7 linked regions of the Homo sapiens genome follow. The protein of the gene in region 4 purifies or fractionates together with the protein of the main gene of each other region. This does not show direct contact. Each region holds a gene or a part of one and is shown on either strand. Other genes may lie near its edges.

The links.
Region 1: the proteins of SLC2A3 (region 4) and SMIM43 purify together in Homo sapiens (co-immunoprecipitation; one study listed by IntAct). This does not show direct contact.
Region 2: the proteins of SLC2A3 (region 4) and AIFM2 purify together in Homo sapiens (affinity purification with mass spectrometry; one large-scale study listed by BioGRID and IntAct). This does not show direct contact.
Region 3: the proteins of SLC2A3 (region 4) and RAB4A purify together in Homo sapiens (affinity purification with mass spectrometry; one large-scale study listed by BioGRID and IntAct). This does not show direct contact.
Region 5: the proteins of SLC2A3 (region 4) and ARRDC4 purify together in Homo sapiens (affinity purification with mass spectrometry; one large-scale study listed by BioGRID and IntAct). This does not show direct contact.
Region 6: the proteins of SLC2A3 (region 4) and RAB6D purify together in Homo sapiens (affinity purification with mass spectrometry; one large-scale study listed by BioGRID and IntAct). This does not show direct contact.
Region 7: the proteins of SLC2A3 (region 4) and NRP2 purify together in Homo sapiens (affinity purification with mass spectrometry; one large-scale study listed by BioGRID and IntAct). This does not show direct contact.

Annotation. Positions count from the first base shown.
Region 1 is NC_000004.12:121,762,548-121,766,805, forward strand, and holds the start of SMIM43 (small integral membrane protein 43), read right to left. Parts: upstream 2,618-4,258; 5' UTR 2,559-2,617; coding exon 2,367-2,558; 3' UTR 2,270-2,366; exon of another isoform or gene 2,038-2,269; intron 1,326-2,037; 3' UTR 1,217-1,325; intron 252-1,216; 3' UTR 180-251; intron 1-179. UniProt on the Homo sapiens protein: Required for mesendoderm differentiation. Interacts with glucose transporters and promotes glucose uptake. Probably augments the glucose uptake capacity of glucose transporter proteins to meet the energy needs of mesendoderm differentiation.
Region 2 is NC_000010.11:70,118,883-70,122,889, reverse strand, and holds part of AIFM2 (ferroptosis suppressor protein 1), read left to right. Parts: intron 1-1,678; coding exon 1,679-1,798; intron 1,799-2,290; coding exon 2,291-2,383; intron 2,384-4,007. UniProt on the Homo sapiens protein: A NAD(P)H-dependent oxidoreductase that acts as a key inhibitor of ferroptosis.
Region 3 is NC_000001.11:229,287,752-229,291,758, reverse strand, and holds part of RAB4A (ras-related protein Rab-4A), read right to left. Parts: intron 3,031-4,007; coding exon 2,916-3,030; intron 1-2,915. UniProt on the Homo sapiens protein: The small GTPases Rab are key regulators of intracellular membrane trafficking, from the formation of transport vesicles to their fusion with membranes.
Region 4 is NC_000012.12:7,929,435-7,933,441, reverse strand, and holds part of SLC2A3 (solute carrier family 2, facilitated glucose transporter member 3), read left to right. Parts: intron 1-294; coding exon 295-455; intron 456-1,956; coding exon 1,957-2,197; intron 2,198-2,799; coding exon 2,800-2,962; intron 2,963-3,570; coding exon 3,571-3,758; intron 3,759-4,007. UniProt on the Homo sapiens protein: Facilitative glucose transporter. Can also mediate the uptake of various other monosaccharides across the cell membrane. Mediates the uptake of glucose, 2-deoxyglucose, galactose, mannose, xylose and fucose, and probably also dehydroascorbate.
Region 5 is NC_000015.10:97,963,401-97,967,407, forward strand, and holds part of ARRDC4 (arrestin domain-containing protein 4), read left to right. Parts: intron 1-2,199; coding exon 2,200-2,266; intron 2,267-2,494; coding exon 2,495-2,642; intron 2,643-4,007. UniProt on the Homo sapiens protein: Functions as an adapter recruiting ubiquitin-protein ligases to their specific substrates. Plays a role in endocytosis of activated G protein-coupled receptors (GPCRs).
Region 6 is NC_000002.12:131,360,998-131,365,719, forward strand, and holds the start of RAB6D (ras-related protein Rab-6D), read right to left. Parts: upstream 3,172-4,722; 5' UTR 2,724-3,171; coding exon 1,959-2,723; 3' UTR 1-1,958.
Region 7 is NC_000002.12:205,790,182-205,794,188, forward strand, and holds part of NRP2 (neuropilin-2 isoform 2 precursor), read left to right. Parts: exon of another isoform or gene 1-1,353; intron 1,354-2,053; coding exon 2,054-2,104; intron 2,105-4,007.

The sequences.
Region 1 (4,258 bases), on a different chromosome or scaffold from region 4:
TAAATATTCATTGTGGCCTGGATAAATGGGAACTTGGTCATTAATGAATTTGATTACAAGGAGTTAATAAAATGGCCCTGGATACAAGATAGAAAGGCACCCCTGCTTTCTTAGGAACCTGAGTCAGTAGAACCAGCTGAGAGATTGGATTAATACTGAGATGGTAATAAACTACTCACCCTGACTTTTCAATAGTCTCTTGTTTAGGAAGAATGATGGGCAGGTTAAATTCATGGATACCAGTGGTGCTGCTAGGAAGATTAAAGGATTGTAAACTCAAGAAGGCAAGCATGTGGTTAAAATAATTTCCATTCTGGTTATTCTAAAGTGTGAAATGATTGTTTTCAATCCTTACAAACAACTATAATTGCTAATTAATTACTCCCACACTCATCTTCAATGTCCATATTAACCATACAACCTTTTAACTAAATGCCACTGCAGAGATATCAACCAATTAGAGAACTATTGTTCAAAGCACAATACAGAATCACTGCAGTTGATTCAGGGAGTTCAAACTGGGAATTCAAATCAAGTCTTACCATAACTCTGATAAAGAGGTGAGGATTTGCTCATACCATAATAATTAAAGTAAACCTCTTACTTCATTAAGAACAGGCCTATTTGGGGAGAGTGAAATAGAAAGTGGGAAATTATCTAATGTCTTGGGCCAAAATTATTCACCTGAGACTATTTTTCCTTTGAAGCATTAAAATAATTGTCTTACACTTCACTTTTATATTATCAACTTAGGCAAACTTTAGTATTTCATTGTTTTTAGCCTCTCTATATGGTCTTTGTGTCTAAAATTAGTATTTTCAATACTATAGTTATGACTTAGCTTATCCCACACTGACATGACTAAACCCAAATCTTCCCTTACTGAAGATTGAGTATATCTGCATCACATATTTCACCCCATGAACCCCCGCACTGTTTTTCAAAAGGGCCGAATGATTATTAAAAGTGCAAACACTCCTGACATCTCATTCAAATTTCCACAATCCTCTACTAAGACACTGATTCTTGCAATGAGTTAGGAGTCAGTTTGGCTTTGTGGATCTGGTAGAAGCTCACCAGATTTGAGTGGGAGAGTGCCCTTTCCTTCCTTGTACCCATTTCCCCCATCCTGAACCAACATGTTTTTAGGCCCTGGATCTTTAGAAGTTTAGTCATAACTAAGGCCAACGTGAAACCATGCGTCATCCCAACTTACCATTTGCAGAAAGCTTCCATCTCCCGTTGTTCCAGCCTTCTTTTTGCAGGCCCAAACTGTCATTGCAGCTGTGGTCCCCTGAGCACCAGTCAAGGGCAGCAGCTCGGCTCTAGAAAGAGAGATGACATAAATCTAGGGAAAAGCTACTGAAGGATGAAGATATTTCCCAAACTAACATTAGCGAGAGGGTACTTAGGGCATACTGGTACTCGAGTTTGCTCCTGCCCGCCCATCTTCTGCAAAAGCTCTAGTAATTTAACCTGAAACCACAGACCCGCCTCTCCGTCCTTTTTCCTGTTTCCCTACACTATGCAAACAGTACCTCTTTTAGCTGGCCCTCCATGCCATCACCCAAAAGGTCACGTACCGGCCAACCCTAAGGCATCTTCCAAATGACTCTCACTGTAACGTTCACCATCCGCTGTCCCAGATTCGAAACCTACCCTGCACGGCAATCCGCAAGCACTAACCGTGGTTGGTGGCTAGAATATGAGTAAGGATCACCGGGAGGAAGGGATTCCTCCCTCCAAATGGACGACTGAATCTTCTCTCCCCCACGCCCCACCCCAGCACCACCAGACGAACCCCATTTACCATCTCTCAAAGCGCAAAAATATTTAAAGCAATATTTAAAATACTTTAAGTGCGCCCCGTTTCCTCCTGCCACCCGTCCCAAAGCCCACACAGTCTTTCTCAAAAATGTGGATATTCAGGTTAACCTGCGATTTTGTTCGAAAGTGGCTAAACTGCATTATCCGAATAATTTACTTTTCCACTCCTTGGGTATAACTAAAATGCAGTTGGACAGAAAAGAGCTTGCAGTTGTCCAAAGTCATTCCGGCTCCAAAGGGCGAATTCTCTTTTCGCCATCTCTCCCAGCCCTGGAACAGCTTAGGGTCCCTCTCGAAGAGCACAGCGCCAGCCCAGACCCCATACACCCACCGTCCCTGGCACCCGAACGCGCTGCGAGCCCCGGGCCTCCCACAGGAGCGGAGACGCGGGTCCCTGCGCCTCACGCCGGAACGGACCCGTCAGAGCCGCCGAGCCCCGCACCTGGAAGCTGGGAGGCCGCGAGGACGGAGAATCGAGGCGGAGACCCAGCCCAGCGCCCGCGCAGCTCGGTGCCCTCCCGCCAGTGCCCGCACTCGGGTCACACCGCTTGCTCTCGGGAGAAGCCCCAAGGCTCGCGGTGCACCGAGAGGCGCCCGGGCTGGAGCGCCCCGGCCGTGTTGGCCACGGAGTTCTTCAGCTGCTTGATGACCACGAAGAGCAGGAGGAAAAGTAAGAAGAGCAGGAAGAAGAAGAGCGCCAGGTAGAGCAGCAAGTTGAGTTCCCACTCCATGCTGGAGGCGCCGGCGCTCGCTGGCCCTGCGCGCTCGGCGCGGGCTGCAGCTGGAGGGCGAGCGCGCCGCCCGCACACCCACCTCCCGCACTCCCGCCCCTCGCGAGGGCGTCCCGCTATGGGCGCCGACTCCGGGGTCCGTGCTTTGCCTCCCCCGGCTCCGAGGAAACGCGCCAAGGAGCTGAGGAAATCCGGCGCAGACTCTCCCAGCTGGCACCAAAGCCTTCCGCTTCGCCGAGATCCTCTCAGGTGCTCTTGAGGACGCGAGCGACTTCCCTAGGAGCGAACTTCCGCGGGCACGGACGCCAGAAGAGGTAACAGCTCAGTCTTCCAGGGGAGGTCGGGACTGGTGTTTTGTAAATGATTTAAAAGTTCCACCCCCAACATCCAGTAGGGTCCCTAGCTCCGCTGCGTTCCCAATTAATTTATTTCGTTATATCCCTCCGTTCCTGCTTTCCGAAAGGACAGGGGATGTCATGGCCCAGAGACCCAAAAGAATGAAAGGTGGCAGTGAAGATGGGGTCTGAAAGGCTATGAGATGATTTCGTGCTATGAGGTGTCTGAGTGAATTCCAGTTCGAGCTGTCTTGCTCTTCAGAGTAGCAGATACATTCAGTGTTGAGTGTACTTTTCTATGGACAACAGGTCACTTGGAAACGCATTAAGAATACAATGTATTTCAGAAGTTATATAGCACAAAGATTTCAAATATTGGCCTCAAATTCAGTTTATTTGGTGAAAAGAGGAAAACAAGTTTACTCAAAGTGTTTCTTGAGTCCCTAAAGCCTTTCTGTATCTGGTTGACGTGACCCAAAGCCCATATCGCGCAGCTTTAAAAGCTGTTCAGTGTATCTATTACTGCAGAACAAATTACCCCCAAATTTAGTGGCTTCAAACAGCATAAACATTGATCATCTCTCACAGTTTCTGTGGGTCCGAAATGTGGGAGCACTGGCTGGGTGATTCTGGTGTCGGGTTACTCATGAGGCTCCGTTCAGATGTCAGCCAGGTCTGCCTTCAGCTGAATGCTTGTGTAGAGGTGGAGGATCCACTTCCAGGGTGGCTCACTCACTGCTTGCCAGGTAGGGCTGGTTGTTGGTGGGAGGCCTCAGTTCCCTTCCATGGGTGCTTCCAATACAGCTGCGGGATTCCCCCAGAACAAGTGATGAAAGAAAACAAAGCAGAGGCTGCAGTGCTCTTTACCGCCAGCTTCAGAAGTCACGTGCCATCAGATCTGTAATATCCTACTGGTCACACAGGTCAGCCCTATTCAGGGTAGGAGTCCAAGGACACGAACGCCAAGGAGTAAGGATCACTGGGGCTCATCTTAGAGTCGGCTATGACAGCTGTTAATACAGCCAGCTATCATTGCCCATTTGTAGGCCTAACTTTATTTTATTCTTTATTTGTGAAGATGCAGAATTGCCTCCTGGACTGAATTCTGGGGATGAGGGCTGACAACATCCCAGATTGTAATAAGTGGCTGCTCCAGGGATGACAGGGGTTCAAAGAGACAGGGTGGTATGAAAACAGTCTGTGAACTGCAAGTCTCATGGACCCGATTCTAGTGTCAGCTCTGTCAGTGGTCACTTTTGCTCAGTGACTCTCAGTCCCCTCATCTGTAACATGCCTTGCTTATCTTTCCCTTGGATTTGTTGTGAGGCTCAAAAATGAGAAAATGTTAAATAAAAATGTGTTTTG
Region 2 (4,007 bases), on a different chromosome or scaffold from region 4:
GCCCTGTTTGTAGCCTTTACGTAAGTCTCATGAATGTTTACCGTGCCTCTATGGCGAAGGTGGTATAACTTCATTTTACAGAGAAGCTAAAGGGTTAAATGGCTTGCTTAAGATCCCACAGCTGGTAAGAGACTGAACTAGGATTTGAACCCATGCAATTTTAGCCCAGAGCCCATGCTCTAAAAGCCAGCGTCCCAGACAACTCCCAGGCCTGGCCAGCCCTCGGCTCTGTCTAGAACAAAAAGGCACACGCATGGTCCCACATCCCCCGGATCGGGACGTCACTGGGGCAGAGGTTTCCCTTCACTCATTTGTGTGTTCCCCCACCTCACATGTGCATCATGGAGCCTGGAACACACCTGCCATGACTTCAGCTCCATCGATAAGCTGCCACCAGCTCTGGATGAGTGTCATGTCCAGCCCAGCCCCATTTGGTGTTTGAAGCTAAGGGGGCGTTGACAAAAGGAAACACAATTCCTTTCCTTGATGAGTTGTGATTTCGTGTGACCCAGCCCTTCTTGAATTAATGGGGCCAGATAGTTTCCTGGTTGGAAAGATTACTGAGTGTCCCCTGGTCCTGCAGTCTCCAGCCATGCGTTTCAGAGCCCTGGAAGATTCCATGAGGGCATCTTGGAGGTTCAGGGGAAAGTAGGGGCTGAGTGGAGTCCAGGCCCTCCAGCCCCTCCCATTGGAGCAGCTCTGTTTTTGTCAACTTTATATATTTAGGCTCCAAACAAGATTTCCTTTTCTTTGTTTACAATTTTTTTAATTAAAAAAAAATTTTTTTAATTGTTTTTGAGATGGAGTTTCGCTCTTGTTGCCCAGGCTGGAGTGCAATGGCATGGTCTCGGGTCACCACAACCTCTGCCTCCCAGGTTCAAGCGATCCTCCTGCCCCAGCCTCCTGAGTAGTTGGGATTACAGGCGCATGGCACCACGCCCAGCTAATTTTTGTATTTTTAGTAGAGATGGGATTTTGCCATGTTGATCAGGTTGGTTTCAAACTCCTGACCTCAGGTGATCCGCCCGCCTTGGTCTCCCAAAGTGCTGGGATTACAGGTGTGAGCCACTGTGCCCGGCCTAAAATTTTTTTTATTTTTAATTTAAAAAAATTAAATTATTTTTTAATAAAATATTTAATAAAAATTAAATTATTTTATTATTTATTTTTAATTTAAAAATTAAATTAATATGGGGTCTTGGTATGTTGCTCAGTGCAGTGGCTGTTCACAGATGTGATGCCACTACTGATCAGTCTTTCTTTCTTTCCCTTTCTTTTCTTCCTGGCGGAGGCAGGAGGAGGGTTCTTCTAAAACACCCGGGAGGTTCTGAGCTAACTCCCGTGGGCAGTGTCCTATCCTGCAGCCCTGCCTCCTGCTTCCAGGCACCCCTCCCACTGCCATGCTGGGTGGCTCCAGTTGCCCCCACATTCTCCACGCGGAGGTAAACTCTACTTCCTTAGGTCTTTCCCCAGGTTCTAGTGCCATCCTTTGGGCTAACCAGTGTGGTGGTTTCACCCCCTCCCATGGGGGCTGCCTCGGGTGCCTAGAGGGGCCTCTTTGCCTGGTTTGTCCCGGCTGGCAGGCCGGGAGTAGGATGCAGAGGCCTAGGCCTGCCCTGCCCTGCCCTACCCTCATCTTTTTTTTTTTTTTTTTTTTTTTTTTTTTGGTTTCTCTCAGGCCCTGCCCTTCTCTCATCTTATCCTGGCCACGGGCAGCACTGGGCCCTTCCCGGGCAAGTTTAATGAGGTTTCCAGCCAGCAGGCCGCTATCCAGGCCTATGAGGACATGGTGAGGCAGGTGAGCTGTGCACTGAAGGCATGGGGCAGTGTGGGCAGATGGAAGGACAGCCTTGGGGATGCCTAGGCCTGCAGCTGGGAGGCCACGGGGTTACTCAGAGCTGCTGGCTGTAGCCATAGAGTTGGAGAGTCACTAGGAAGAGACTTTCCTGGGAAGAGACCTTGAACTTGCTGCTGGAGCCAGGATGTGAGCACCCTAAACCTGCTCATGTTGCCCTTGGTATGTCTCTGACTTTCCTCTCCTGGGGCTTTTCACGGGTCCCTTCCACTCCTGTTTTCATAAGGCTCTGTTTTGTAGAGCAGGCTTAGATCCACAATCTTCCACAGCAATTCTGCGAGGTGGGTGGGAGGAAGCACGTTTGGACTCAAAATGTGGAAAGGGTTCTCTGCCCTCCTTTGGCCCAGGGAGCCACACCACAGGCTGAACCAGCAGACAGAGGTGGATGTGTAGGTGTGTTTCATATGTCCCTGTTTCACATGTCCTCTTCTCCAGGTCCAGCGCTCACGGTTCATCGTGGTGGTGGGAGGAGGCTCGGCTGGAGTGGAGATGGCAGCAGAGATTAAAACAGAATATCCTGAGAAAGAGGTGAGCCAGGCTGCCTTGCCTTGGAGCTCTAAGTGGTTGGCTTTTTTCTGCATTATCTTAGGAACATCAGGAATTTGCTCAGGGCAGAGAAGTCTGGAGCTCTATTCACATAAACTGGGAGTGTGTATTTCTGTTTTGTGCCAAGGTGTGATTCTATAGGGGATTTTTCCTGCAGAGCTGGGATCCTGCTGCACCTGACCTTACGGAGCTGCTCAGGGTGTGTCCTTTCTCAAGGAAAGGTCCTGCCCTCTGCTCCAACTTGGAGGATCAAGCCCAGGGGCAATACCTTGCAAAAGCGGAACTTCTGTGTCACCTTCAGAATTCAGGCCTTTGTGATACAAATGTATATTTGATTACCTCTTGCTGGCAACCAGTATTTGATTACCTCTTGCTGGCAACCAGCTTGGACAAAGACACCTTCAGTTGTTGCTTTGGTCTCTGCCTGATATGGTAGCCCCTGCTCTGAGCAGCCCCATGGTGGTGGGGAGCCTGCAGCAGAGCCCTTTCTGCCCACGCTGGGCAATGACTGAACAGCACTGCCTTCTGCCCATGGGTGGGAACGGGGAGGGGACATCAGCCTGCCCTGTTGCTTTCTCATGCTCAAAAGACAGAGATCCTACCGGGCAACCTAGCGAGAAAGAGGAAATCCTGGCACCCTGTCCAGGCTTGGCAAGGGCTGAGTGAGAAACGTCCTTACAGGTCCTCTAGGCGAGAGCTTGCTTGCGGTTGAAGCCAGATCGGCTTCTGAGAGCCATGTGGGGCCTCTGAATGGATCTTTCTTCCTCAGGGAAAGGCAGGTTGGTTTTGAAAAGAAAAATCAATAGAGGATAACTTAATTATATGGCTGTTCTCTGACAAATTGTTGGAAATTATGATGAGTGATTGATCTAGTTACATTCATTCATTTTGATGTATGAGGGTTCTATAGGGAAAAACCAAACTGTTTTTCTCCCTACTCACTCCACACTTCTGGGATAAGATGTGTGGGTTTTTCCCCCACTGACCAATTCTCTGACACCAGCTGGGTGTCCTACGGTTCAATTCAATTCTGACACTACCTGGCGTTAGCGCAGACCCCACAGGTCAAGGGCTCAGTCCCACGATCCTGCCCCGACTTCAAACACCAGTTGCAAGTCCATAGGTCCCCAGCTTACCCACGCTTCTGTCCCACTTGGCTACAAGATAGAGATTCTCATGACTCTCTCCTTGGGTTAAATAATTTGCTAGAGCAGCTGATGGAAGCCAGGGAGACAGTTTACTTGCTGTTGCTGATTTATGACGAAGGATGTTTTAAAGGATAAAAATGAACATTCAGATGAAGGGGCACATAGGGCGTGGTCTAGAAGGGTCCTGAGCACAGGGGCTTCTGTCCCCATGGAGTTGGGGTGCATCACTGTCCTGGCATGTGGACATGTTCACCAACCTGGAAGCTCTCTGAACCCTGTACTTTAGGGATTTTTATGGAGGCTTCATCAGGTAGGCAAGGTTGATTATGACCTCAATCTCCAGCCCCCTCTCGTCACTGGAGCTGAAAGTTCCAGACTTCTAAGCTGGCTTGGTCTCTCTGGTGACCAGCGATCATCCAGGAGCCCATCAGGAGTAGCTTCATTAGAACAAAAGATGC
Region 3 (4,007 bases), on a different chromosome or scaffold from region 4:
CCTGCCTCACTCCTCTCTGGGAGCCCTACTCTCCACAAGCGAGGTGAGTTCTCTCTTTCTGGTAACTGGGTTTCCTTTAATTAAGTCATTAAAAGAGCACATACTGCGCCCCTGTGTGCTAGACACTATTCTGGGCACAGGGGAAACAAACAGAAAACTCAAAAACCCTTACACTCATGGATCTTACAGTTTCTTTCTTCTCATTTCTACAAAAGGTTTAGGAAACTGAATTTCAGAGCTGTTTCTTCCCCGCTCTGACAGAGTCGTGAGCTCTTACAGAGCCCCTCACTTGTTCCCCTGGTCCTCCTGGAAGGGCAGTGCCATCACATACTGACTGCTGTCTTAGTCTTCCCTCACTGTCCCTCTAGACCTGTGCCATTCTGAGCTGGATCTTCCTGCTGGCTTCATTTTCCTCTTTCTGGGATCATGCCCTTGTCCTGGTGAAGTATATCCTCCTAAACTTTCTAAGAAAGTACATTTCTAAGAAGTCTCTGAGAAAGATAATCTTGGCTTCCTCCTCTTTCTTGCACATCTGTTGGTATTCAGCCTTTACTTGCACACTTACAGTTTGGCTAAGTTTAGAATTTTAGGTTGAAGAATTATTTCACCCTGAGTTTTGAAGGCAATGCTTCCATTTCTTTTAGCTTCCAATGTTGCTGTGGAAGGGTGCAAAGCAATTCCATTTTTCACACTTTATATGTGGCTGCTTTTTCCCTCTTGGAACCTTTCTGGTCTTCCTTACTTCATCTGTGGTGTTCTGAAATTTCACATGGCACGCTCTGGTCTGGACTTTTTCCTTACTATGTTTGATTTTAGGTGGGCCAATTAATCTGGAATCTCATTCCTTCAGTGAAACATTTTCTTCTATTATTCTCTCTGCTCTTCTCTCTTCTGGAACTCCTAATAGTCATTGCATCTTCTGGATTAATTCTGGAGGATTCTTTATGTCATCTCTCCCATTTTTCACCATGAGTTTATTTAACATATTATTCTGATTGCTCTTTTTAAGTATGACTTTGTTTCTATTACATACTCCAATGCAATCTCTGCTCTTCTTCCTAAGGATACTGTGGTTTTAGTGTGTTTTTCTTACTCCCTCAAAGTTCCAGCTTCTTTACTTTGAGCTCTCTCTTTTGCTATAGAAACTTTCTTCAAAATTCTGCCTGATCATTAAGAGCAAGGAATGAAAAAGTCTAAAAGAAGCTCTTTATGTGTGGGTGGAGCAGGTGGGCTTGGAGGGTTTCACTTTCAGATGACTGGATAGAGACTGGGCTGTTTGACTGGGAAAGCAAAATGTCACTACCTTCAAGCCTTTCCTTTCTGACTATTCATTTTTCTGCAGAGAAGGCTCCTTTCTCCTATGTGGGACATACACACCTGGCTGCCAGCGACCAGGGAAGAGGTAGGGGAGGTGGGTTGGGGGCCAGAGGCTTTCATTTTCACTTAATTTCCCTCTTTTCAGGCCTGACCCCATGCCCTCAGGTGGGCCTTATGACCTTGAGTCTAGACTCCATTTCAACGTAAAAGACTGAACCTCTTATTTCGTGTGTAAACATGAACCTCTGTAACCTCTACCTCCTGTAGAACCTGATGCTTCCAAATCCTGACCTTTTCTGGGACTCCAGAGGAAGAAATGGCTTCCCCCATTACAGTACTTAAGGTGGAGCTCCTTCTGCTGTCAGAGCACCATCTACTTCCTATCTTTAAGATTTTTTTGGAAATCTCTCAATCATAATTGTGCACTCACTCAATCTTGGCCTTTTTGAGTTACTTCAATTTCAGTTACTTAACAGACATTTCAGTGGGGTTCTGAGAGGGAAGACATAAATGTCTAATTGAATCCACCATGTTTAATCAATGCTTCCAGAAAAATGATGGTGATTAAAGGTGGTTATGGTATTTTTGAAGCAATTATTGAACTTCAATTACTTAATTAATTTTTGAGATGGAGTTTTGCTCTTGTTGCCCAGGCTGGAGTACAATGGCGTGATCTCAGCTCACTGCAACCTCCACCTCCCGGGTTCAAGCGATTTTCCTGCCTCAGCCTCCAGAGTAGCTGGGATTACAGGCACCTGCCACCACGCCCGGCTAATTTTTTTATTTTTAGTAGAGAAGGGGTTACACCATGTTGGCCAGGCTGGTCTTGAACTCCTGACCTCAGGTGAGGAGGTCTGCCTCGGCCTCCCAAAGTGCTGGGATTACAGGCATGCGCCATTGTGCCCAGCCAAACTTCAATTATTTAATATACGACATGTACTCAACTTCAAGTGAAATGTTTACAAATGGGGTGGATTTTATTTCACTGAATTATAAAACTATGAATATCAGTTCTGACTTTGTGCATCTGTGCAAAAACCACAACTAAAATATTAATCTATTTTCTTGCTTTAGTAGTTACAGAATACTAAACATGTAACCTCATTTGCAGTGACTGAAGTCATTCTGAGCCTCAGTTATGACCCTATTGTAATTAAAGTGTGGAGAGAATATTTTGTGGAGTGTGTATCAAACATCAGAACATGCTCTAGTTAATGTAAAACAAAACAAACCCTCACAAGGTTTTAAAAAGTTCTTCTTTAAAAAAGGAACACAGAAAAACAAGCTTGTGCTTTGATTTGAATCTAGAAACATACTGTACAATACACAGTGCCACATCCTCCTGAGAATGGGTCAGCCTCCGAATTATAATGCAGTTGCGCGGAGATCCTCCTGTATTCTTTAGTAATCCATGCTGCAGAGAGCTAACCTAAATTTTAGCTGTCTTGTCAATCAAAGTTTCCAAAAATGAAGTTTCTGAGATTAGGACAAGGAAGGGGTGTGTTGGGGAGGGAGTGAGACCTTATATATTGAGAGAATATCATCAATTATTTTAAATCAAATTTTCAAATATTTTTATTAAGTTAGAGAAAAGCTACCTGAATCGTTCTTGTCCTGCTGTATCCCATATTTGTAACTTTACATATTTACCACCAACATTTATTATCTTTGAACCAAATTCCACTCCTATTGTATGATTTGAGTCATCTTTGACTAAAAAAGAAAAACAAGAACAGCATATTTAATTTTAGAACATTAACAGGCTTATAGATTTAAACAAGTGACACTAAAACCAAGAGTTACATCAATGGGGAATGGACATTACTCTAGCCATTCATTTCTCCAACATTCCATTGAGAAGATGCATTTAGTTTTAAAGATAATACACACAGCCCCTATTCTCAAAGAGACATAAAGATTTTTCTCAAAACCCCCAAACAAATGATACATTTAAAAACCTATGCCTGAAAGTAGCCCTGCCATATCCGAACCACATCCAACTGTGCACTGTTAAGATGCTCACAGATGGTGACTGCTGACATACCAGCGTACCATTCTGAAGGGCATAACGCCCAGTGACAGGTGTGGAACTCAGTAAGTAATGAGGTGGAGACAGTTTCAACTACTGTATTTGAATGGTTAAATATTTTAAAGAAATAACAGTGAGTGGAAGGAAAAGCAGAGGAAAAGGGAAAAGGAGGAAAAAAATTGAACCAAAGAAAAAACACCCTCCAAAAAACCCCAAAACAAAGCACCCTCCAAAAAACCCCAAAATAAAACACCCTCCAACAAACCCCAAAACAATACACCCTCCAATAAACCCCAAAACAAAACCCTATGCAAGCTACAGGTGTTTGAGATTTCATTAATCGTAGTGTTCTATGGAAATGATTTGGGATGAATTTGTTGGAGAAATTAGTACTATTTGAATGGGCAGGAGACAGGCAAAATAAGTATTTTGCTAAACCCAGCGGGAATACACTGCCTATGAAAGAACATTTCTGTGATGATAAACAGATAAGCTGAAATTGAATATCGCAGCTATACAGTCCATTGGCTAGTTTATATTTTGTAACTGCAGAACAAAATTTAATTGTTTCAGAGATCAGGGATGCCACTGGCAACTGGATTTATTATTTACAGGGCAGAGGGTAGATAAATGGTTACAGTGACTATGCTAGTCTGTTTCA
Region 4 (4,007 bases):
GTGATGCACATCCTGTATTATCCCTTAGGGGTTAGTTACAAAGAAGCTGGGTTCCCTTAGCAGAGGGCTGGGGTAGACTGTGAACATCGGTGCTGCCACCTACTGGGATTTTCAGGACAAATAGAATTACTATTCCAGCGAGAGTTAACATAAATTCCAATACGTTATCTGCCCCTTCCATTCCTGTCTATTTATTCCCTTGATTCTCTAGGAAGGAAATGATCCCTAATGTTTGTCTTTTGTTCTCATCCAACTGTAACAGTCTGTTCTTCCACCAACCCTTTTATTTTGCAGATCATAAAGGAATTTATCAATAAAACTTTGACGGACAAGGGAAATGCCCCACCCTCTGAGGTGCTGCTCACGTCTCTCTGGTCCTTGTCTGTGGCCATATTTTCCGTCGGGGGTATGATCGGCTCCTTTTCCGTCGGACTCTTCGTCAACCGCTTTGGCAGGTATTGACTAGAAACTGGGCAAGGAAGTGGGCTCTACCAGCCACATTGAGGACAAGTGTGGAGAGTTAGGGCAGGGAGGTGATGATGCCTTTGAATAAGAACACCTTGAATTCTAATCAAGGGAAACCTAGTCCAACTGGCCCCGAATATGACTGCCCTTGCTTGGAGCTCTACTACCCTGGAGAGCTCCCACCCAGCTGTGCAAGAGATGAACTGTGAGTGATTGGCCTTTGCAGTCCAGCTAGGGATAGTTCAGAATTATTCCCTAGTAAACTCAACTATGGGGTTTCTAGAAACATACTTAATTTACAAGGTCCGAAGTTGTTTACTTGTATTATAAATGTTTTTATTATTTTACCCAGGATTGGTAGGAATTATTTTTGTCTATGGCAAATGTGGATAATGACAAAAAAAAAGTCTTATTCTATAGAAGCTTAACAATATGTTTTAGAAGGTAGAATATATTTTCATTTATGACTAATGAAGGAACTGTTTTAATTTGCCAATTAGGCACGGTGTGGTGGCTCACCCCTGTAATCCTAGCACTTTGGGAAACCGAGGCAAGTGGATCAGCTGAGGTCAGGAGTTCGAGACCAGCCTGGCCAACATGGCAAAACCCTGTCTCTACCAAAAATACAAAAATTAGCCGGGCGTAGTGACAGGCACCTATAATTCCAGCTACTCCGGAGGCTGAGGCAGGAAAATCACTTGAACCTGCAGTGGGGGTGCAGAGGGTGCAGTAAGCTGAGATCTGGCCACTTCACACCAGCCTGGGCGAAAGAGCAAAACCCCGTCTCAAAAAAAAAAAAGCCGGTGCCGTGGCTCACGCCTGTAATCCCAGCACTTTGGGAGGCTGAGGCGGGCAGATAACAAGGTCAGGAGATCGAGACCATCCTGGCTAACACGGTGAAACCCTGTCCCTACTAAAAATACAAAAAATTAGCCGGGCGTGGTGGCATGCGCCTGCAATCCCAGCTGCTTGGAAGCTGAGGCAGGAGAATCTCTTGAGCCTGGGAGGCGCAGGTTGCAGTGAGCCGAGATCCTGCCACTGCACTCCAGCCTGGGTGACAGACCAAGACTCCGTCTCCAAAAAAAAAAAAAAAAAATGCCAATTAGATATTCTAGAAATGCAATTGGAATTCACATTTAAAAATCGGTAAAGCAACCTGTTTTACTTGATTATGTTGTTCTTTTGTTTTTTTACCCCCCAAGAAAGAGGGTCTTGCTCTGTCACCCGGGCTGGAGTGTAATGGCCCAATCATAGCTCACTACAGCTTCGACCTCCGACCTCAGCTCCCTGAGTGCCTGGGACTACAGGCGGGCACCATCACACCTGGTTCCCAACTAGAAATGTTCTGATAATAGAAAGTGAAAAACAAAAGTTAGATTAAAAAAAAAAGGGATGATATGAGCCTGGAGAAGAACAGAATAATGAGGACAGAGGAGAAGTTAGGAGCCTCTCACTTTGCTAATTCTACTTTGTCTTTGATTAACCTTACAGGCGCAATTCAATGCTGATTGTCAACCTGTTGGCTGTCACTGGTGGCTGCTTTATGGGACTGTGTAAAGTAGCTAAGTCGGTTGAAATGCTGATCCTGGGTCGCTTGGTTATTGGCCTCTTCTGCGGACTCTGCACAGGTTTTGTGCCCATGTACATTGGAGAGATCTCGCCTACTGCCCTGCGGGGTGCCTTTGGCACTCTCAACCAGCTGGGCATCGTTGTTGGAATTCTGGTGGCCCAGGTACTCTAGAACTTCTCATACTTAATGAGTGTTAGTTTCATGGGTCATTAAAAAAGTTAACATAGGTAAAGCACTGAAGAATATCTGGCACATGTTCAATTACATATGGAAGTTTTAGATAATAGATAGTAGCTGAAGAAGCAGGCTGAGGCCGGGCGCTGTGGCTCACGCCTGTAATCCCAGCACTTTGGGAGGCCGAGGTGGGCAGATCACGAGGTCAGCAGATGAAGACCAGCCTGGCTAACATGGTGAAACCCCATCTCTACTAAAAACACAAAAAATTGGTCGGGCGTGGTAGCGGGCACCTGTAGTCCCAGCTACTCCGGAGGCTGAGGCGGGAGAATGGCGTGAACCCGGTAGGCAGAGTTTGCAGTGAGCCGAGATTGTGCCACTGATCTCCAGCCTGGGTGACAGAGCAAGACTCCGTCTCAAAAAAAAAAAAAAAAAAAAAACCATGCTGAGTAGAGAAAGGAAAAGAAACACAATTTGTTTATTTTTTCACATGGTAAAAGAATGTATGATTTTCTGAACTTTTTGTGTTTTAATGAACTTGTGGCCTGTGAAGTATGGGGTTTATAGCATTATCTTTGTGTGGTTTCTAGATCTTTGGTCTGGAATTCATCCTTGGGTCTGAAGAGCTATGGCCGCTGCTACTGGGTTTTACCATCCTTCCTGCTATCCTACAAAGTGCAGCCCTTCCATTTTGCCCTGAAAGTCCCAGATTTTTGCTCATTAACAGAAAAGAAGAGGAGAATGCTAAGCAGAGTGAGTATCCTTCACACCTTACTACATGAATTATATGGTTGTGGTTTGTTTTAGGGATGATTGTACTGGACCTACTTTCTGTTACACTCTTTCCCTGCCTCTCAGAATCCAAGTGAGGAGGGTTCTGATTACTCCTGAGTAAAATTTTCAGCCCCTAAAGAATGAGGTGAAAAGGCGGGTTTAGGAATGGATGCTATCAGGCAGGGTGTGATGGCTCATGCCTGTAATCCAGCATTATAAGAGGCCGAGGCGGGTCACCTGAGGTCAGGAGTTCAAGACCTGCCTGAAACAACATGGAGAAACCCTGTCTCTACTAAAAATACAAAATTAGCCGGGCATGGGGGCGCATGCCTGTAATCCCAGCTACTTGGGAGGCTGAGGCAGGAGAATCGTGTGAACCCGGGAAGTGGAGGTTGCAGGGAGCTGAGATCATGCCATTGCACTCCAGCCTGGGCAACAAAAGTGAAACTCTGTCTCAAAAAAAAAAAAAGGAATGGATGCTACCCATCACCTCACCTCGTGCGGCCCTTTCCTGGCTGCCTTACAGGAAGAATGAATTTGGGGCAGCACATTCTCTTTTATCCTTTCCTCTTTCTTCTTTTCACCAGTCCTCCAGCGGTTGTGGGGCACCCAGGATGTATCCCAAGACATCCAGGAGATGAAAGATGAGAGTGCAAGGATGTCACAAGAAAAGCAAGTCACCGTGCTAGAGCTCTTTAGAGTGTCCAGCTACCGACAGCCCATCATCATTTCCATTGTGCTCCAGCTCTCTCAGCAGCTCTCTGGGATCAATGCTGTGAGTGTGATACTTTAGGGTCAAACGTGTCTTAAAGTATTTCACTTAAAATGCCGGGCATGGTGGCGGTGTGCCTCTGTAGTCCCAGCTACTCAGGAGGCTGAGGTAAGAGGATCACTTGAGCTCAGGAGTTTCAGGTTGCAGTGAGCTATAATTATGCCACTGCATTCCAGCCTGGGAGACAGAGTGAGACTGTGTCTCTGAAATTTAAAAAAAGGAAAAAAAAAAAAGACCCTGGAAGGACACTGG
Region 5 (4,007 bases), on a different chromosome or scaffold from region 4:
TTCCTGTTTATGTTTTGAGATAGTTGAAAGTCTCATTTTAAATGATATAGATCCGATGTCGATTTGTTGCTTAATGAAAGGGGAACTTCATGTCTCTCATTCTCTTCAGTATCCTGGGCAACTGTGTTCCCCACAAATGCCTGCCATGCTCTTCCTCATGCTATTCCCTTATCTAAATTTCCCTTCCTATCTGTCTCCATTCCAGCCCTCAGGTCCTGAAGATGTCGGGCCCACCCATGTTCCTATGTGGGTGCTCTAGGTTCTAGCACTCCATGGTCATTGCTTGTGTACAAGCATGTAATCTCCTTTCCTCCCCCGGTCTCTTTGAGGATTATCTGCGGTGCCTGAAATCTAAGCACTACACATTTTAAACTCAAATGAAATACACATTTCAAAACATTTGTAAATACTTCGTCATGTTCTGTAATCTAGTAATTTCAAATTAGAACTTTAGCCCAGCTCTTTTAGGAGCACTGGGATTGCCTTGAGCCTTTCACTCCACAGCTGTCAGGTCGAGATGCTTCCCTGGTCCCTGCTCTGCTGCTACCTTCCTGAGCACACGTCAGCCACTGGGACCCGCCCTGCCACTGAATTTAACATGATCTCATGCCCCTGTGACTTGTTCTTCACTTTGCCTCCAGTCACCCAACTGTGGAGTATTCAAATTGACTTAAGTGGCAGGTGTGTCACTTTTTTATCCCCCTTGATGTTAACACATTAAAAATTGGGGATAGATTCAGAAGACCTAATAGGTCAGTAATGTGTTCCTATTTTCTAAAAGTACGAAGTTGAAATGTCAGCTGACTTGGTTAAGGTCATAAAATAAAACTCTATTTTTTTATTTAAGGGATAAAAAATTCCCATTTCACTACTGATTTCTTTAAATTTTTTTTTTTAGTGAATGGATAAAGTAGAAATCTTCATTTTAGTGTCAGATGACCAGGCAAATCTCAGAGTTCTGTCTCTGTGTTCCGATTTCTTCATCTTATTTATCCTATCCACAATAAGGGAATTCAATATTAAATCTGAGCATGAAATGAAAGGACAGTGTATAAGTCTCTCAAGAGAGCCTCCTGACCAACCGTGAAAGCCATGAAGTCTACTTTGGATCTGAATTAAACAGATTGTCTTGGTGCCTTCATCAGAGGTTTCAGTGGTGCCTCTGGCCTTACAAAGTCCCTCCACACCCTGCATTTTGGCCTTCTCACAATCTAGTGATAAGCTTCTGCCTGAAATAAAATGGAGCTGGTAACCCAAAGCTGAGAAAAGGGCCCTGGCCATGCTTGGTAAAGCCCTTTCTGTATTCCAAGTTAGCCACCAAGAAACTCTGTGTTAGTCAGGAGAGCTCAAGGATACATACATGACTTGCTTAATAGCTTGTCTTGTGGGTTTGGCTGTTTTGTGTTATACCCAGTATTAATGATATTCATAAAGTTTTCACTCCCTTTTCCATTTCTGCTCAAAGAATACTCAGTGTGATGTTTCTGGTATACCCAAAATAAATCTGTCTTTTGCTAAATTAGTTTTTGGTCCAATTTAATATTGGTATTTCCCGTTAGTATAATAGAATGGGGGTAAGCAGTTGTGATTTTTACATACACACACACACACACACACATATACATATCCATATACACATATATATGTATGTTGGAGTTCTGAACCTTAGCACTTTAGTAATTGGTCTATTTGAGAATGGAATATATGTGTGTATGTATGTGTGAGTGTTATGGTACTTGGTAAAAACTGGCCAAGTGCAGTAGCTCACCCCTATAAGCTTAGTGCTTTGGGAGTCCAAGGTGGGAGAATCGTTTGAGGCCAGGAGTTCGAGACCAGCTTGGGCAATATAGCAAGACCCTCGTCTCTGGAAAGAATTATTAAAAATTAGTCAAGAACCATGGCACATGCATATAGTCCCAGCTCCTTGGGAGTCTGAGGCAGGAAGATTGCTTGAGCCCAGGAGTTCAAGGCCGTAGCACTCTGGCCTGGGCAATAGAGCGAGACCCTGTCTCTAAAACACATAGACACACGCACACACACCCCCCTTCAAACTTAATTCTCTACATTTGTTTAATGAACTTTTGGAGTATGCTGCATTTTGTAGCGAGAAAAACTTCCTTCAAAAAATTATTTACATTGTGAAAACTCTTGATCTAATACTAACTATCCTTCATTAAAATAAAATACAATCTCTTATAGGTGAAGGCATCATTTTATTACAGCCTGGAAAACATGAATTTCCATTTCGCTTTCAACTTCCATCTGAGTAAGTGAAACACTACAATTTTGTGGTTATCCTTCTCTGCAGTATGTCCATTCAAGTTTATCACTGCTAGGTCTCTTCTGATTCTCAAGTATGCATGTTTACACTGAATAGTCCCTAAATAGACTTACTCTTTTTTTATTTCCAACCTAAAACATTTTAAACCATGCTTTTTTTGGCTTTGTTTAACTGAAAAGTAAACTCATAATTAATGTCTTTGGTTGGTTTCAGACCTTTGGTCACCTCGTTTACTGGGAAATATGGAAGCATTCAGTACTGTGTGCGGGCAGTGTTGGAACGACCCAAGGTACCTGATCAGAGTGTAAAGCGGGAACTCCAGGTTGTTAGTCATGTCGATGTCAACACACCAGCATTATTAGTAAGTTCTTCCTTTTTCTCTTCCTCCTCCTTTTCCTCCTTCCCTCCCTTCCTCCTTCCTTTCAACAGTGGGATCTATATTTAGCCAGTTTACTGGTAGTCTGTCCTGTCACTTTCTGATGGCTTGGAAAACACAATCTTGTAACCCAAAGGCATTCACTATAAATATATGATTCTAGGTTGGACAAATTACAAATTGTGTGTGTTAATACTATTGATTATGTCCCTGCTGTTCAGGGCTTCTTTTGCCAAAAAGTTACACAGGCTTGAAATGCATTAATAAGGCTTAATAACAATAATGCACACACAGAGAGTAGTTACTTTTACCAGAGTGGCCACATTTACAGGACTGGGGTATTCTAAACTCCTCAATAATAGCAGGTTGAGGAACAGTAATTATGGAAGAGTATTAATCATGCTCAGCCTGTTATTGAAGCTCAGGCCATTATGCTATGTATCCTTCCATTTTGCATGTCATTTTCTAACATTAAGTAAGTGCATGCAGCTGCCGCCGAGATCCTTTCACTTATCATTTCCTTATGACAGATTTGGCCACATTAAAGCATTGAACTTCTAATAATCACCAGAAATACTGTAGACTGATAAGAAAGATCAGGCTATAAGTAACAACAGAATAGGCAAGATGGGAGCTAATGAGCTAGATTCTTTTATCTAAACCCATATTATCAAAATAATATAAAATTATACCTTGTACTTTCATGATAGCTACTAGGACCTAATGGTTCTTCATTTAAATATGAATGAATGATTTTTTTTACTTCATAGAAAATACTGAGATAATTTAAACTTTCCATCACGATACTGATGTGACAAAGATGTATTTTTCATGTTGGAGGTTTTTCTAGCCTGTGTTTTTAAAGACAAGGAAAAAGCTAGCAGTTAGAAGTTGTTGTTTAAGTCTTATTTTCGCATGAGAAAGAAATAGAATTTAATGTTCACCTTTAGATTATGAAAAGATAGCAGATATGCTGTGGTTCCATGGCCTCTTGTGGTCAGAATCATAAAACAGCCGGCACCCAGCTGGCCTGGCTTATAGCTGGGACTTTAACAGCCGCTTGAAAACCATTTTTGAAAAATTGGTGATGCCAAGTAGCTTGTATTTTTAAAAACTACTTAGAATTGGGAGGCTGAATATTTTTAAAGTTTTTATGACCATTGTGGGAATTGATTTAAAGGGATTTGTCTTTGCCAAAAACAGACACTGTTGATCCCTTACGATTCTTTATATAAATAAAAAAAAAATATTGCAAGTAACTGGGTTTTACAGAAAGCTTTGGTGTGTGTAACTCGTAAACTGAACATTGTAAATCTTGTAGTAACTTCTCTTGCCACTATAGAATAGAAT
Region 6 (4,722 bases), on a different chromosome or scaffold from region 4:
CTGCTTACTTTTTAAAAAATACATAAAAAGAATCAAATGCAACAGTGTAGGAAGGCAATCACCCCCATGTCAGAAGTCACAACTTCTTCCAAATAAAGAGTATGACCCATCTGCCACAGTGAATCAATATTTATTTCAGGACATGCCATGTCAAAATAAAACAGAGTCAACCCTTGCCTTTAGCAATTATATTGTATTATAAAAGCACTTTATAACTCCATCCCATCTTTAAGTGTAAGTTACTGGTATGTGGGCTAATGATTATCTGTAAGCATTTCTCTATTCAGATCCATAATCCAAGTGCTCTCTGAATATTACAAGGTGACAATAAGTGGGAAGTGGAGGAGGAAGAGGAAAGAGAGGGGACTAAGGTTCTCCCAGTTTAAGGTTTTGTTGCAATGAGGGGATGAGGAAGTATGAAGATATTTTTGTTGTCTTTTCATCTTTATACTGTGTTAAGTAACGTTTACAACATAAATTCAGCAGGCTTTTCCTGACCTATAACTCGAAGTTTTCTTCCTGCAAACAATGTATTTACAAATGTGTTTATTAGCTTACACAGCAATCTCACAATAACTAGTGAAGATTAAAAGGGCACACTCCTAGTATATTTGTTTGCAGTGTTTCAAGGGAAATACATATTGCCATGGTGAAGCTCTAAATAGATTCAACGAAACATCTAAAAATTGAAAGTTGTTAAAAAAAAAGCAAAGAAATATCACCAAAGAAAAAAGATTAATCGTAGCTTAAATATAAAACTAAATCATTAGTTAATTAAACTATACAGATCTCATACAAACGAAAACCAGCCTGAAAGACCCAACCTTAAAAAAATGCTAAAAAATAAGGCATAAATCTGCATAATATTCAGTTTTATTTCCATTCTCTCCTTTCCCTCTACTATGTATGCTTTACCTGATCTGCCTCTAGGGGCTTACAAGAAAATGGTTTCCGGTTTCCATCTTCAATTTGACCTCAAATGTCCTGAGCAAAGTTTTTGCTCTTCTGCTGAGGGTTCTTTTGTTGGTAAGCTTTAGATATCGTTATTTCTGCTAATTCAGTAGTTTTGATCGTAGTGCCAAATTTAAATTCTTCCACTGGTTCTTCTGTAAGGAATTAAACTTTTATGGTGTCTTGCCTGCATAGTATTATTTTTTAAAAAAAGAAAACCCAAGCAAAATCTATTGCTTAAAGAGGTTTCTTATTTTTTAAACAAACAGAATAACTCTTGACAATTTTAAAACCTTGGGAGAAATAGTTCATTAGAACGTCATTATCTTACCATGAAGAATTAAATACTAAAAACCTGTTCTGAAGCACTTGGTTAATTTTCTCTCCCAGAGTCTAATAAAGCACATGTGAAAGGACCATTTGTTTTAGTCAGAAATACATTTTATGTTCTGCTACTTATAAGTACTCAGTATGTTCTTTAGGACTCATTTTGAAGATGCACCAGGAGGCTTTTCTCATTCAAGCACTGCCTACCGTGATCGCTGAATTCTGACCTCAAAGAGGATCTAAGTAATTTATATCAGTGCTCAAGAATAATTCTGGACATCTTGGTCCACAGCCTACAGCAAGTGGTATCTGTAAAATTAAAGGATAATTCCAGTGGGCTTGGTCGGACTGCTGCTTTGCCATCTCTTGTTTGTTTTGAGGAAGTGGGGGGAGGCTAGGTAAGAACACGGAAATAGGGAACGGGGTAAGGGAGAGGTGAGAAGAGCAAGGAGAGATAAAGCAGGCTGTGAACATACTGCTCGTTAACCAAGCCATACTCATACTGTTGAGATTTCCATCATTTTGAAGTACATTATCATAACATTAAAAAAGAAAAAAAATGTTAAGAAAATGTATCTAATTTTTAAAGTTATCACTGGAATACGCTGAAATAGTTTGGCTTTTTGTAAAATATAAATAATGAAGACGCTGACTTTTTTTGTGCTTGTCAAGCTAATAGATCATCTCCACGAGACAGGCAGCAATGATGAATTGCAAAACGTTATTAATGAAGGGAAAAGGTTCAAGCCAATATTCACACTGCAGTCAATGAAAGAGTAAGGGGGCTTCTGAGGAAGGGTTGAAGATGACATGGGAGAGTAGCAGGAACAACCCCCTTCGCTGACTGTTTGCTCCTGAGGCTTTTCCAGTTTTATGTCACTCATGTCTTCTCTGCTTCCGTCCTGTGTGCTTTCCATTCCCGGCAAAGCTGCTGCTACACGTCGAAAGAGCTGCTTTACATTGTATCCAGCTTTTGCCCTAGTTTCAATAAACGTAACATTCAGCCCTTTGGCTTTCCTCTCTCCCTCCTCAATTGACACTTGCCTCTTGTCAGCAAGATCTGTTTTATTTCCTACTAGCGTGATGATAACATCACTTCCTCCTTCTGTTCTGACATCATCAATCCACTTTGTAGTTTGCTGGAATGAGTTAACATTTGTGATATCGTAAACTACTACAGCTGCAGCAGAATCACGGATGTACCTGGGAATGAGGCTACGGAGACGTTCCTGACCCGCCGTATCCCACAGCCGAAGCCCGATTGTTCCATCCTCCAAGTACATAGTTTTTGATAAAAAGTCAATGCCAATTATTGCCTGATAGGTGTTGTCAAAACTGTCATACCTGAATCTGGTGATCAAAGATGTCTTTGCAACGCTTTGCTCCCCCAGGAACACCAGCTTGAATTTCCTCAGCGGATTCCCGAAGTCTCCGCCCGCGGACATGGTGGAACTAGAGGAGCTGTCGCCGCCTCAGCCCAGAGACCTCCCGGACCGATGCTGCTCCAGCCGGCTGACGAAAAAGGCGAGCGGAAGGGCGGGCGCCGAGCTCTCTGCGCCCCTGCAAGGGCCGGTGGAGGAGCCCGGCTGGAGGGCAGCAGGACTCTCCACAGACTGGCAGCCGCCGCCGCCTCCCGGCAGAGTAGCCGAGCACCGAGCGAGGCCCGCGGCTGGGAAGGGAAGGAGGGCGGTGTCGGCAGGAGCCAGGGGTGTGCTTTGGCTTCCCAAGGCTAGGGCCGTTCCCTTCTTCCTCACCCGGCTCCAAGACCTGCGGGAGAAAGGCGGAGGGTGGCGGAGCCGGAACCGCAGACGTATCTGGGATCTCTCACGCGCGGCGCTTCGGCTTCCCCAGCCGCCGCCGCCGCAGCCCAACCTGCTGAGTGCGCGAGCCTCTGGCGCGGGGCGAGCCAGGGCGCCTCCACACATTTTTTTAAATACACAAAACATATGTACTAAAAACAATGGGGCGGTGAAAACAAAATATTGCAAACTAGAAAAAAGACAAAATTGACATTTTAAAGACTTTATTATGTATTATTAAATATATATTAAACAGAAATGTTATAAAATTTAGCGTCCCTATCTCCCAGTTTCTGTGAGAGGTCAGAAACTTAACTTTCCTAAGCCACAATTAAGCAAACACATCTGGCCTAATCACATGGACCAACCTGTCTCCTAACATCATGCAGGAAGTTTCAGGAGCTCCTGCAAAACTCTCCCGCCTTGCATTTGAACAGATATGTCAACTGATACAATTACACAAGAATTGTATCAAGATATTAGACTGAATCTCACAATCACACTCAGCCTGATTATTAACCCTTCTCCTGCATCTTGCTCACCTAAATGTATCTGCATTTTCTATGAAGTGAATAGCTTAGAAATGTATGTCGTCCATGTATTATAGTGTAAGTTATTGTAGTATAGAAATATGGACTTTCTTTAACTCCCATTTTCTGCCTAGGAAATACCAATTTTTTTAGTATGGCAAGTGTTTCCAAGCATTGAGAAGTGGAGAGTGTAGGATATCCACTGCAGAATGAGGTCTGCTTGTCATCCTCTTAGTCTCCACTGCTATCCCTCCCTCATCTCTCTCTGTTTCATTGATGAGTATAGAAGATCAGTCACTTTTATATGAAATGAAAATTGATGAAACTAAGGTGTTGATTTGATTATCCAACCAACCATTTATTGAGTGTTCATTATAAGTCAAATTGTGTTCTGGAGAACAGCTCAGGAAATGAATGTTTGACATCAATGTACATAACAGAAATACGAACATACCATTAAAAACTCAGACCTCTTATGACAATCCAGATTCTCATGTAAGTTTTGTGAAGCTCTTTCAAGATGACAATGTAACAATTCAAAAAAAATTATTTAAACAAGTCATTCTTGAGACAGAAAAATGGAATTACAAGATCATATATGGCTATTTCACTAGCTGAAATCTTAAGTACTGTTTTTAGTCAATTGACAGCCATATAATTCTTAGTTTTATATACTGATATTCACCAGAAATTAAAAACTTTTAAAAATATTTCTGTCTCATTCTACTAATTTTAAAATTTCATTTATTTGGTTATATTTCTTCATTTTACCTGGCCTTGAATACTTCTTTCCTGCCCAGCATTAAGTTTAATTAATGTCTAATTTGTTTACTTGGTTTAGTTACTTTTGACCATGCTTGGTACACTTGTTGTGGAGCAGGCATGTAGAAATGTTTACAGGTTTATGGTCCTCACTCTTCCAAATCCCTAACGGCGGCACCCAACAGACACATACCACAATGTAAACACATACACACACACACACCTGCACACCCATACTCACCCACCTACACACACACCCGCACACACCCATACTCACCCACCTACACACAGACACACACCGATACTCACCCACCTACACCTAGACACACCTGCACTCACCCACCCACACCCAG
Region 7 (4,007 bases), on a different chromosome or scaffold from region 4:
TCTGGGCAATTGATTTCATTGAGTCTTAGAAATGGGCCAATTCTTAGGAAATCATCTCATCCAGTCCTCAACCTCCAGAGACAAGAGGCCGTGATCTCCTGTGATAAAATGTTCTCAAAATCATTAGCATCATTTTACCCTTTTTCCTTTAAGATCAATGCCACATTCACCCCTTTCCAGCCAGTGATCTATGGTATCCTAAGACTTCTTCCCTGAGGGTGTGAGATGGAGCAAGATGGCATTCTAGCCTCCAAGAATTCATCACATCCTTGGCAGAAACAAGATCCCTAAAAGCAAGCATAGGATTTGGCCCAGAAGTCACTGGCAGGAGCCCCGTGGTTCTCATCCTAGGCTGATTCACATATTCTTATCCAGTGTTCTGCCTCTTTTACTGGTGAAGATGTTAAGACATATGAGCAGCCCATCAAACCAATTAATTGTTGGAAATGTGACGGTTTTCTTCCATGTTTTTTTTTTTTTTCATATGGAAAAAAACCCTGTGGGTTGACTTTCACAAGCTCGATTTGATCCCTGTGACAAACACCACCTTCCTCTTGTTGATTCATGTTCACATCTCCCTTCCAAGGAAACAACCTGCTCTGTTGGGGCCTGGAGGAGAATGCAGGGAATGGGCGTTGAGGTGGGGAGGCTGGCGTGGCCTGCAGGTGCCACTTGCTGTGCTTTAAACATGCAAGGAATGGGCTGGAGTTATGGAGGATTAGTGCCATGTGGCATCAATCTTTTAAGTGGGGTCTTGGCAAGTTGTTTTGTGCATCCCTTACTAGGGACCGAGGGGGATGAGAATGTGCTTTAGCACTTTGGCCAGAAATGAGAAAGACTTCTAACATGATTGAAACCATGGCCTCCAGGAAAAGACTGAATTTCAAATGTGACAGTGATGGATCAATGCTCAGTTCAGATCATGGTCAAGTAGATCTTCCCCGAGATGTAGTGCTGATGAAGGAAGCTTTCGGGATGGTCTAAAGTTCTTTTTCTCCCTCTTGTCTGATACTTCAGCCGTTTGGGATTTTGATTTTCTTTTAAGCCTTGATTTTTGGATTTCAATTTATAGTAGTGACTTCAAGATTGTTTATCTGACTTGGTGGAACAAAACTCTGAGAGGGCCATACACATTCACTGGGGCTGTCTTGAGCTGACAGCTTGGAAAGGCATAATTAGCTTGTGAGATAGGAAGAAATGATAAGATGTTGCTCTTTGCCATGCATTTGATGTTCTCTATTAATGTTTTACCATTTTAGACAGATAACTTTCAGTGGTTCTGATTTCTATAAGTTGGACAGCACAGTGAATAGAGAGACCTGTATTATCACCCTCCCAAATTATCATGAAAAAGAAAAAGATAGACAGTGATAATACTGGAGAAAACTCATAGTAAATTAACTTAGCCTGGCTAGTCAGATTGGATGCCCATCTTTGATCTATTCTAAACCACGAAGAAAGCTAATAGGAAAAATAGACTTGGGAAGGATGAGAAATATTAGCACAGATATGTGAAGGTCAACAGGCATTATGACATGCCTTCCATTTCTGCTCTTAAATTAAAACATATAATGATGAAACAAGACTTCCTTAAACTACCATATGTTTACATGAAATCCAGAGGAGAAAGACTCTGATGCTTTTGTGCCCACTGAGATGCGTGCCTATGAAGAGGTGCAGCATGATACACTAAATGGACATCCCAGTAAAGGCAGCTGCTGTTGGGCATAAGATGCCATTGAAGGTGCCTTAAATGAAACCTGTGTTCCTAATGAATGCCAGTCATTAAAAAGGCACAGTGGCAGGGGTTGCTTGGCACTGAAGACCCAGAGTTTCTTCTTAGTTCTGTGTTACTGGTTGTGGTTGGAGGAAGACACAGGTCATCTGAAGGAGAACAATCCAGTAATGTCCATAATGAATGATCTAGAAGTAGAGGTGATTCTCTAGCTGCCTGCCAGAATGGGGAGTCATTCTCGTAAAGATTGCCTCCCTGCCTTTTAGCCATGGTGATAGAACTTGTTATTAACTTGTTTTTATTTTCTTTATATTATAGTGGACATCCCAGAAATACATGAGAGAGAAGGATATGAAGATGAAATTGATGGTGAGTACTGTTATGATTTAGCAGGTAATCGTAAAATTCAAGTTTGGTTATAAAGGTGTCAACAAAAATAATGCTCTGGGTATCGGAGGGCCCAAATCTAGAACTATCAGTCAGAAATATATAAAAGAATCTGGAGAAAAATGAGGGAACCATCAATGGATCTGTCAGGGTCAACTTTAGAGGTTTAGAAAGTTTATTGAGTTCCTCTGCCTAATCTGAAACAGATCCCCTCTTTCCAGTAACTTTTTACCTGGATGGACTTTGAATCTGAATAAACCCTTTACAAGTGAAAGATCAGCTCCTCCATACGTGTCATAGTCTGAATCTTTTGACCTTCTCCCAAAAATGGCCTGAGTGAATGAGCATAATGTGAATATTCTCCCAGACCTGCTGTGGTTTCTGGTTCCCTGGCTTGGGGGAAACCTTCCTCACACTATTCAAGATTCCAATTTGGAGCTTCTTGCAAGATTTCGGTTTCTTTTTCACACTGACCATCTCGTATCTTTATATTTATTCCAAGTTCTATTTTTCCACTGCAAACACATATACTTCAAGAGGCTAGAGGGCTGCTGAGCAAATATGTAGATGTAATTTCTTCCCTCAACTCAGAATAGCACAGGTCTCTCTCTGGGCTTCTCTGAGTACCAGAGTTGATCTCCAACAGACTCAACAGCAAGATTCCACTTAAAGAATAACTGTAGACTAAGATTGATGAATTTAAGAGGAACAGTTTATAGAGCAGCTGCTTTTAACCTGCCTTTAATCAGAAACTTCATGCGTAGTTATAGAAACTGGAGTGACTAACCCAAACAGCACCTTGTTAACTGACTGCAGACTCTCCCTGCAAAACCCAGTCCAACACTCCTTTTATGGGCAAAAGTGCATGACCAACCTACATGGAGAGACCGCAGTAGATCAGGCAGAGGCGCACTGGAATGGAGTAGAAAGGGCAATGGGTAAGGAGGCAGAAAGCCTGATCTCCATTCCTGCTTTAACTGCTTGCTAAGCCTGTGACCTGGAGTGAGTTACCTAGTTGCCTAATTTCTTTAAACCTCAGTTTCCTCACCTATTAAAATATATATAATATCCTGCCTTCTTCATGGGATTATTAGGATATTTCAAAAAATGATGCCCAGATGTGGGCATGCCTTGGCCACAGTGTAGAAACGTAATTAGATTAGTCTGCTAGGGCTTCCAGAACAGAGCACCACTGACTGGGTGGCTTACAACAGACATATATTTTCTCACAGTTCTGGAGGCTAGAAATGTAAGATCAACATGTGGACAGGGTTGGTTCCTTCTGAGGGCTGTAAGAAAGGATCTATTCTAGCTCTGTCTCCTTGGCTTGGAGATGGCCATTCTCCTGTTCATACGATGTTCTCTCATGTGTGTGTCTCAGAATTTCCCCTTTTTCTAAGGATACCACTTTTATCGGATAAAGGTCCACCCTCATGACCTTATTTTAACTTGATAACATCTGTAAAGGCCTTATCTCCAAATAAGGTGGTGAGGGTTAGGACTTCAATATGAATTTAAGTGTCTGGGAGGGGGATACAGTTCAACCAGTAACAATAAGGCACGATGCCTTATTATTAAAGGAGGTCTGATGGCTGGGAAAAATCTGCTGCTTATATGGCCAGGAATACCAAATTAGGAAACTCATCATGTGCAAATAGTCCCAGACTGTCCTTTCATTAGCTTGAGGAGGTTGGAAAGGAGGGATGTAGAGGTTGCCTTGAACACAAGGCCATCCTAGGTGCTGTAAAGCCACCCCAAAGGTGCTGTTAAAATCAGAGCTTACCTAATGTAAGTCAAATTATTTATTTATTTATTTATTTTTTTGGAGACGGAGTCTCGCTCTGTCACCCAGGCTGGAGTGCAGTGGCGCAATCTCGGCTCACTG